Linked DNA regions of Homo sapiens. The protein of the gene in region 1 purifies or fractionates together with the protein of each later gene. This does not show direct contact. Each region holds a gene or a part of one and is shown in the gene's direction. Other genes may lie near its edges.

Region 1 (3,746 bases):
TGGGAGAGATCTGGAAGCATTCTTCTAAGGTGTTGATAAAATGTAAATATATTTTTAGAACAATCTTAGAGCTTATGCTAAAGATGAACTATGTAAGAAAGTTACCTTCTTCAGCCACTTGTAAATAGCAGTGTGGACCAATGCTTTGGATCCTCTTCCACAGGAGAGGAGACAAGATTGGAGGAACCAAAGAACCATGGAATTAGGGACAAATGGCTCAGAACAGTGCTCTGCAGACACATGCATCTGTACTTTGCTTCCCAGAAGCCAAATGAAACTGTTGGAGCTTGGTGGGCTCCAGGCCTCAGGGGGAAGACCACCCTAGGCTTTATCTTTTCCTCTGCCCTTCCTGCCTGCTGTTAGCCTCTCCTCTGGACCAAAACTCCCTTTAAGGGGAAAACCTCCTCTTTGAAGCCCACAAGATACGGTGAGGATTACTGCCTTTTTCTGATTTCCAACGTGGGTTTTTCATTAAGCAAAGAACAATTAGAAAACCCACACATAACATAGGGTATTCAGTAAGTTCAGGAAAGTGTTTTCCACCATCTCTTTGCCCCCATTCCCTCCCCAGCGCTTGGCTCAAGGTCTGGAGCTTGAATCTGCATCGTCTTCCTAGGTGCTTGCCTGAGGTGAGTGGTCAGCGGGTGCTGGCTTGGGGGCAGCTGGCAGGGCGTATGCTGCGGGTAGGAACCCAGGGAACACTGGGCGCCTTAGCTTGGAGCAGCTGGCTCCGAGGAATTGTTCCACGTCTGCACAACTTAAAAATCTGCAGTTTGGGGGCGGGAGGGGGAGCGCGGGGGTGGGTCCCGAAGCGTCCCATTTCTCCTCCTGGCTGTTAACTGAGCGCTCTCGCTCAGTGCAGCGAGGCCAGCGATGCCTTCTGGACCACACGCTGTCCTCGCCGAGGTCCTGGTTTGTTCCTCAACGTCGGCTGAAGGCATCGTCCCCTGACTTCCTCTTCCATTCGTCCTTCCGAAAGGGGACCCGACTGGTTCCTCTTCTACATATGAGGCGCATCTGCTTGGTGCAAATGTCCAAGCACCTCTTCTGACTCGGTGAGTGGAGGAATAAGACAAAGCATCTTGTTCTGCACTGTGCCTGAGTCTTCAGGCAGCGGGACCGATGGCAAACATTGGCAGGAACTGGAGCTATATGTACTCTCCTTCGCACTTTGTTTTAAAACAAGTTTGGGCCTCGCGATTTCCTGAGGAAATCCAGGCAAATTAGCAAAGTGTCGCTTGGGCCGCGACTTTAGAAAGGCGGTTGCCCCAGCCGCCGGGGCCGCGGGGGAGGTCATCTTTTTCCCGCAGGGCCACGGCGCTTCCGGCCCAGGAGGGCGCGCAGGTGGGAGGCGCGGGGCGCGCTCCTGGTCCCACCCGGACAGCGCCTGCCGCTCCGGGGTGACTCTGCACTTGGGCCTGGGCGGGGGCGCGCGGCCGGCAGGGCAGCATCTAGGTCTATGGGTCTGTCCGCCTGTCTGGCGGTCGGAGCCCCGCAGTCCTCAGCCGCCCGCGCCCTCGGCCCGGGGCGCCCGGCTGCGGGCCCGAAGCGAGGGGCTGGCGGAGCTGCGACCAATGGGGCGGCGGCCGAGCGGCGGGCCCCGCCCCGTCCCGTCCGGCCCCGCCCCGCCCGCAGCTCCCGGGAGCCTCGCTCTAGCGGGGCGGGACCGACGGACAGACCGGCCGACGCGGGCCACCCCGCTCTCCTCGCCGCCGCGGCGGCAGGCGCGGGGCCGCGCCGCGAGGCCTGATCCCTGCAGCGCGGGCAGGCGGCGTCGCAGAGCGGAGCTAGCTGGATGCGTCCGGACTCCTGCAGGTACCTGGCTGGCGTCCCCACCTCCCTGCGCGCTCCGGAGACTTCTCCGGGCGACCCTGCAACTTTACCGCGCCTTCCCCCACCTTTTGCTGCCCCAGTCTCCTGTGGTCCAGGTCGCGGGTGCACGACCCCGAGGGTCTACGGCCGCAGAGCACTTTCCGTCCTTCTGGGCGTCTGGCCCGCGGCGCCCGCATCCTCTGGTCCCCAGAGCCCGCCGTCGCTGGAGCCCTAAGGCTCCGCCTGTTGCGTGAACTGCGGGCTGTTGAAGCGGTGGCTGGGTTGATTTGAAAGCCTCGGGGAAGGTATTTAGGATCAGCTTTCGGGGAGTGGGGTGGGCTATGGTCAGGGGGAGGACCACCTGGAGGCGGGAGAATCGATGAGCCGAAGAAAGGCGGCACCTCGCGTAGGGGCATCCCCGGGGCGTTTCCTTGGCCGGGAAGCCGTTCCTTCCCTTCCTCGAGAGGAGGCGCTTTCCTGGCGCTTGTAAATGCTTCCCGGGCCGTCTGCTCCGCCTTCTTTGTCATTCCTCCCCTCCCCTTTGCCCTGCAGCTGTGCTAGGCGCCCCGCGACAGTTGCAGGGAAGAGCGAACCCAGGGCCCTTGCTCTCGTGCAGCGCTGCGCCCTGGGTGGGGACGGCGTGAGGCTTGCAGCGCAGGTGTGGAGTCACTTGCGGACTCTGCGTTTGGATCAGTGGCAGTGGTGGGGAAGGGTCACCCCGGGGTCAGGAACTCCTCTTTTTTTTTTCGCGCCTTTCTGGGTGGCTGCCCGACCTCCTGAGGCACCTTGGCTAGCAAGCGAGCCAGTCTTGCCGGCAGGGGCCGCGGCGAGCCTGGCTGGGCGCCTTTCGCATTGCAGGGCTTGTCCTGCACCCCCAACCCCGCTCTGTCCCTTCTCGTTCATTTGGAGAAAGGAGCACCTTTTGCATTCTTGATGTCTCCCCCCGGTTTTGTCTGGGGAGACCGAGCCGAAAGCTTCACTCGGGTGGCCCGCAGCAGGGGCAGAGGACAGCAAAGAGCTACCTCCACCTGCCAAAATGACCCAGGGGCCCTGGTTTGGTGCCAAGGCGTGAAGTGGGGGGAGGGGCGGTAGGTGTTCCTTACGTTCCTGCCGGAGAGTAGCTTTGTGGTTGGCCCGGAGCCTTCGTTCGGGTTTTTTGTCTTTCACCCTACCCTCTGAAAATACTGGAGCAGATGAGTACAAACAGTTCAGAAGCCTTTCCTGTTTCTTTCCCTGTATTTACTCAAGCGATTTGCGTAACCATTCACTTGGAACTGTGTAAGTCACTCCTAGTTGCCCCCCTTCTTAGACTATTTGCAAATACCTGCCCAGGTAAACAGGAAGCACGCACCTATCTCTTAGCTGAAGGCATATGCCCTCGTGCTTTGTCTTCCCTGCATATCTGGAGCCGAAGAGGTGGCTTTGATTCTCTAGCTGAACTTGGTGTAATGTGCAGGCTCCACTTCTTACCTGGGTGGTGACCTTCTTGAGGAGATTGACTCGTTCAGTATGCATTTCCAACCAGCCCGCCATGGGCCAGGCCCCAGGATGCACTCGGGGACAGACAGCAAATGGATGATATAATTTCTGCACCCAGTCTAGTCTGTTCTTTCTTTCTCACCAGCTTCCCTTCTTCTCTTGTTCTAATATTATGTTTGTCGTTTCTGAACTAGGAATTGTCAATATTGGGATCCGGAGAAGGTCATATGAAGGTGCCATAGAACTCTGAATCCAAAGCATGTTGTGAATATACTAAGGAGACTTGCGGGATCAGTATTAATTGAATCTTTTGTCTGACCCATAATTGCCTGAATAGAGCCATTGATGAATGCAGCTACGCTAAGGTTTTGCTGGTCAAGTGTATGAGGGCAAATTGGGAGGTCAGAAGCAGTCTTTGTTCTGTTCTGAAATATTATAATATTAAAAATCCAAAG
Region 2 (3,746 bases), on another chromosome or scaffold:
CGGGAACACCAGGAAGCTTTGCACCAGCAGAGGCTGCAGGGGCACTTACTACGGCAGCAGGAACAGCAGCAGCAGCAGGTGGCAAGAGAGATGGCCCTGCAGAGGCAGGCTGAGCTTGAGGAGGGCCGGCCGCAGCACCAGGAGCAGCTCCGGTAGCCTTCCCCTTCCTTAATGAACGAAGACAGCCCCTGCTCCAGTTTTCATACGCAAATTAAAAACAGTTTTGTGCATTTGTGATTCATGAAGTTAAGGGGCTCATATTGCTCAAATAGCCAAGGCAGGACAGCTACTTGAAAATTAAATACCAAATATTTAATTTTAAAAATAATATTTTTTTTCTGCTCAAAAGTGGTAGGTTAGGTCTCCAAATAGCCTTGCAGGCTTTGTGCCAACTTTATTTTATTTTATCTTTAAAAGATATTTTATCTTTTTAAGATACCTTTTGAAAGTGTATCTGGAATTTTTATTATACCTAATTGCATACATAAGAGGTTTTTAAAAATTTTTCATGGCTTCTTAAAAATGTTGAGAAACATTACTTATTACTGTCTTTAAAGATAAATGACCTATGTCAAACTGTGCCTCTGAATTTTGTCCCACTGGATTTATCATGTTTGTGTCTCTTGTAGGCAGCAAGCTCATTATGATGCTATGGATAATGATATCGTTCAGGGAGCAGAGGACCAGGGAATCCAAGGAGAGGAAGGAGGTGGTGAGACTTCCTAGATGATGAATGTTTTAATAAATTACTTGATAACATTGTATATTATCAGTGAGCCAATATTATATAACATCAATGAGCTGTATGCATACCTAAGTGCAAAGGAGGTTTGTGAATCATGTCTTTTTCTTAATCCTCTTAAACAGTACATGCTGGTAGTGAAAAATGCTCAAGATAATCTGTTTCCTCTCTATCATTTTCCCTGTAGTTTAAGCTTTTTATATACTAAATATTTATAATATTTCTGACAAATTATTATAGGATTATTATGCTTTGGGAAACATCTGCATTTTCTCCTTACCTTGGAAGTCCTCACATCATTGCCTTAAAATGTTTTCAAATTAAGTCAATAGTAGCTTTCATTTATGATAAGCACTTAATATGTAATTTATCAAATATTGCTTACTGTTATAATAGAACCAGAATGTAACTTACTGTCTCTCTGGCACCACTAACACTTAGATGTGTATCTTTTTCTAAAAAGTCAGAAAGAAAGTGATTACATACAACCTCCCTCAATAGCCCGTTGTGATATCTTACAGCTCTTACAGTCAAGAAATTGTTTTCCTTATGTCCGCCATGTGGCACTTTAAGCTTTTTTGTTCTCATATCAGTAAGACTAGAGAATGGCTTGTCCTCTTCTCTATGTAGTAAACCCCTTTGTGCACTTGAAGGCTGATGGTAAGTTACCCCGTATCATCATTTTCTCTAGGCTTAGTACACTCCATATACTTAAACTTTCCTCTTCTATCTTACTTGTTTTAAAAAGTGATTTGTTCTTCTCTTTTTGTGCTCATACAATTCTCTTTATCTAAATATTTTTTCAAAAAGCAGCAAGTAAATGTCTGAGTATGAATGTGTGCTGTTTCTGGGCTGTGGCGGTCATCATCATTACTGTGATGACATCAGAAAACATGTGATGGGCTATATTTGTTTCTGAGCTCCACAGATGGGGCAGTTCTTCCTTGCATTTCCTGAAACTATCAATTTCTTCTTTTGGAGCCCAGCTACTTCCTCTGATATTATCAAACATTAGTTGATTTCTTCAGCAGTGTCCAATCAACTGGGCTTTCTTTTATTGAGAGAGTTTTGATTGTTGTTGTTTTCTTGCATATGGGGGAAAAATTACAGCTCCTGTGAAAAATATTTATTTTAGAAGAAAAGTGTCTGACCCATATCATCTCTCTAGACACACAGTCTGTGAAGAGAACATAACCTTATTCAGAAAAGCCAGGACATAGGCCTTATGTTGAGTTAACAGAGGTGGAGGTATTGTAGTCTGTAGAAAAGTCCACTGGTGGCTTTTCTTTGAGTTGAAAGGGAAATCCTGTTTGATTCATTTTGGGCTGATTTTAGTTCCTTTGATTTGCTAGCCTATGAAAGAGACAACCAGCACCAAGATGAAGCAGAAGGAGATCCAGGTAATAGACATGAGCCTCGTGAACAAGGACCCCGAGAAGCCGACCCAGAATCTGAGGCAGATGTAAGTATCCTCTCTTCTGCCCCTGACACATGTAAACTCATAAGGTGGGAAAGAGAGTTGAAAACTTGCCTGATGCCAGCCTTCAGCCCCAGATATTTCTGTTATATCCTCAGCCCAGAAGGAAAATGGCTTGCATAATTATATATGGGCAGTGTTTTTAACTGTAAACCATGGTGTACGTGTATGTGATGAGCTGGTTTAAAAGTTGCTCTGGGGGAAAAAAAAAAACAAAACCAGGATTTTTTTTTTCTGATGACTTTTAGATTAATAAAACTAAAACCTAGAAAAGCAAAACTGAGAGACACTGAAATATGTAGTAACTCTGAAAGCTAGGAGGAATAAAAGGCAAGTGTGGAAGTTGGAGATGGGACCAGAGAAAGGAAACTAACCCTTCCTGAGCATGTTGAGCAGTCTGCTAGAGTGTTAGGTATTTGTGTGACTCTCTGTAATCTCTTAGCAGTCTAGTGACCATTTTAATAAATATATGGATAAGGATATGTGGTCTGAGACATGAAGAGTTGTTCAGGTATGCAATGGTACAGAAAATTTATAATATAAGTAGGTAGACATCTAATAACCAGCATTGTTGTTTGTGTTTACCAAAAAAGACTGAGACCTCTAGTTCAGCTGGGTGGGCTAGATCCTTGGCCCTGCCTACAAGTGAAGCAAGCAAATGTTTAGTGAGTCTGTTCCTGCGTGTATGCGTAGATGATTTTTACAGCTTATTTTAGCTGCCCTGTCATCTCTTGCTAATAGATCAACTACCATGTTTATAACAGTCGGTCTGTGCTATGTCACATGAGCCCTGATTAAAAGGAGGACCCATGTCCTTGCTAATCATCAAGAAAGTCATCCTGCTAGCTACTTAAAGCCCTTTTGCTGGAAACAGCTTTTCCACTTAACTTGCACTGAGATGTGGCAGAACACCTTTCCCTGGCATTCCTTGCATCAAGATTTCTGAAAATATGCTCCAGGGAACCTAGTCCTGAAATATTTTCAGGAAAAGGCTAATACTTGAGAGCAGAAACATATGAGAGAGCAAGAGACTATCCAGGAGAGAGCAAGAAAGCAAGTGTACAAAGGCCTGCAAATGTGCATGGGGTGGGAGGAAGGGCATTTCAGTCACTTGTTTGGGAACTGCTGTAGGCTTTGATTTCTTGACTATATGATCCTTTACTTTCCTGTCATCTGTTTGTTTGTTTTGGGGAACATGCTGGGAAACATTGGCCTTTGTACCATTCTTCCTTTTAATTAGAAATGGTTAATCCCACTTGTTCCTCTCTTTCTGTTTTATTTGAACGTAACAACTGTGCCTGCTAATTCATACCTGTTACGTGGTCGGAGTTGAGCTAGTCAATTTTATGAACGTTTGCAAAAGATATTTGGTACTTTTTTCTGAAAAGAATATGTTACATTTTTCCTGTAATTCCATACAAATTTTTGATAGTGCACTAAAGAAAATCCATATGACAAGAGATTGTGGAGTAATTAGAGTTTAGTGTGAAGGTGGTAATTTGGTAGTCTCTACGTTCCCAAGAATAG

Evidence for each region. Proteins that work in one complex are often made in the same cells at the same time.
Region 2: the proteins of KCNS3 (region 1) and GOLIM4 purify together in Homo sapiens (affinity purification with mass spectrometry; 2 studies listed by BioGRID and IntAct, with this or other methods). This does not show direct contact.

Annotation. Positions count from the first base shown.
Region 1 is NC_000002.12:17,876,992-17,880,737, forward strand, and holds the start of KCNS3 (delayed-rectifier potassium channel regulatory subunit KCNS3), read left to right. Parts: upstream 1-1,675; 5' UTR 1,676-1,815; intron 1,816-3,746. UniProt on the Homo sapiens protein: Potassium channel regulatory subunit that modulates the delayed rectifier potassium channel activity of KCNB1 by namely slowing down the deactivation and inactivation time constants.
Region 2 is NC_000003.12:168,026,186-168,029,931, reverse strand, and holds part of GOLIM4 (Golgi integral membrane protein 4), read left to right. Parts: coding exon 1-152; intron 153-629; coding exon 630-709; coding exon of another isoform or gene 710-712; intron 713-2,094; coding exon 2,095-2,204; intron 2,205-3,746. UniProt on the Homo sapiens protein: Plays a role in endosome to Golgi protein trafficking; mediates protein transport along the late endosome-bypass pathway from the early endosome to the Golgi.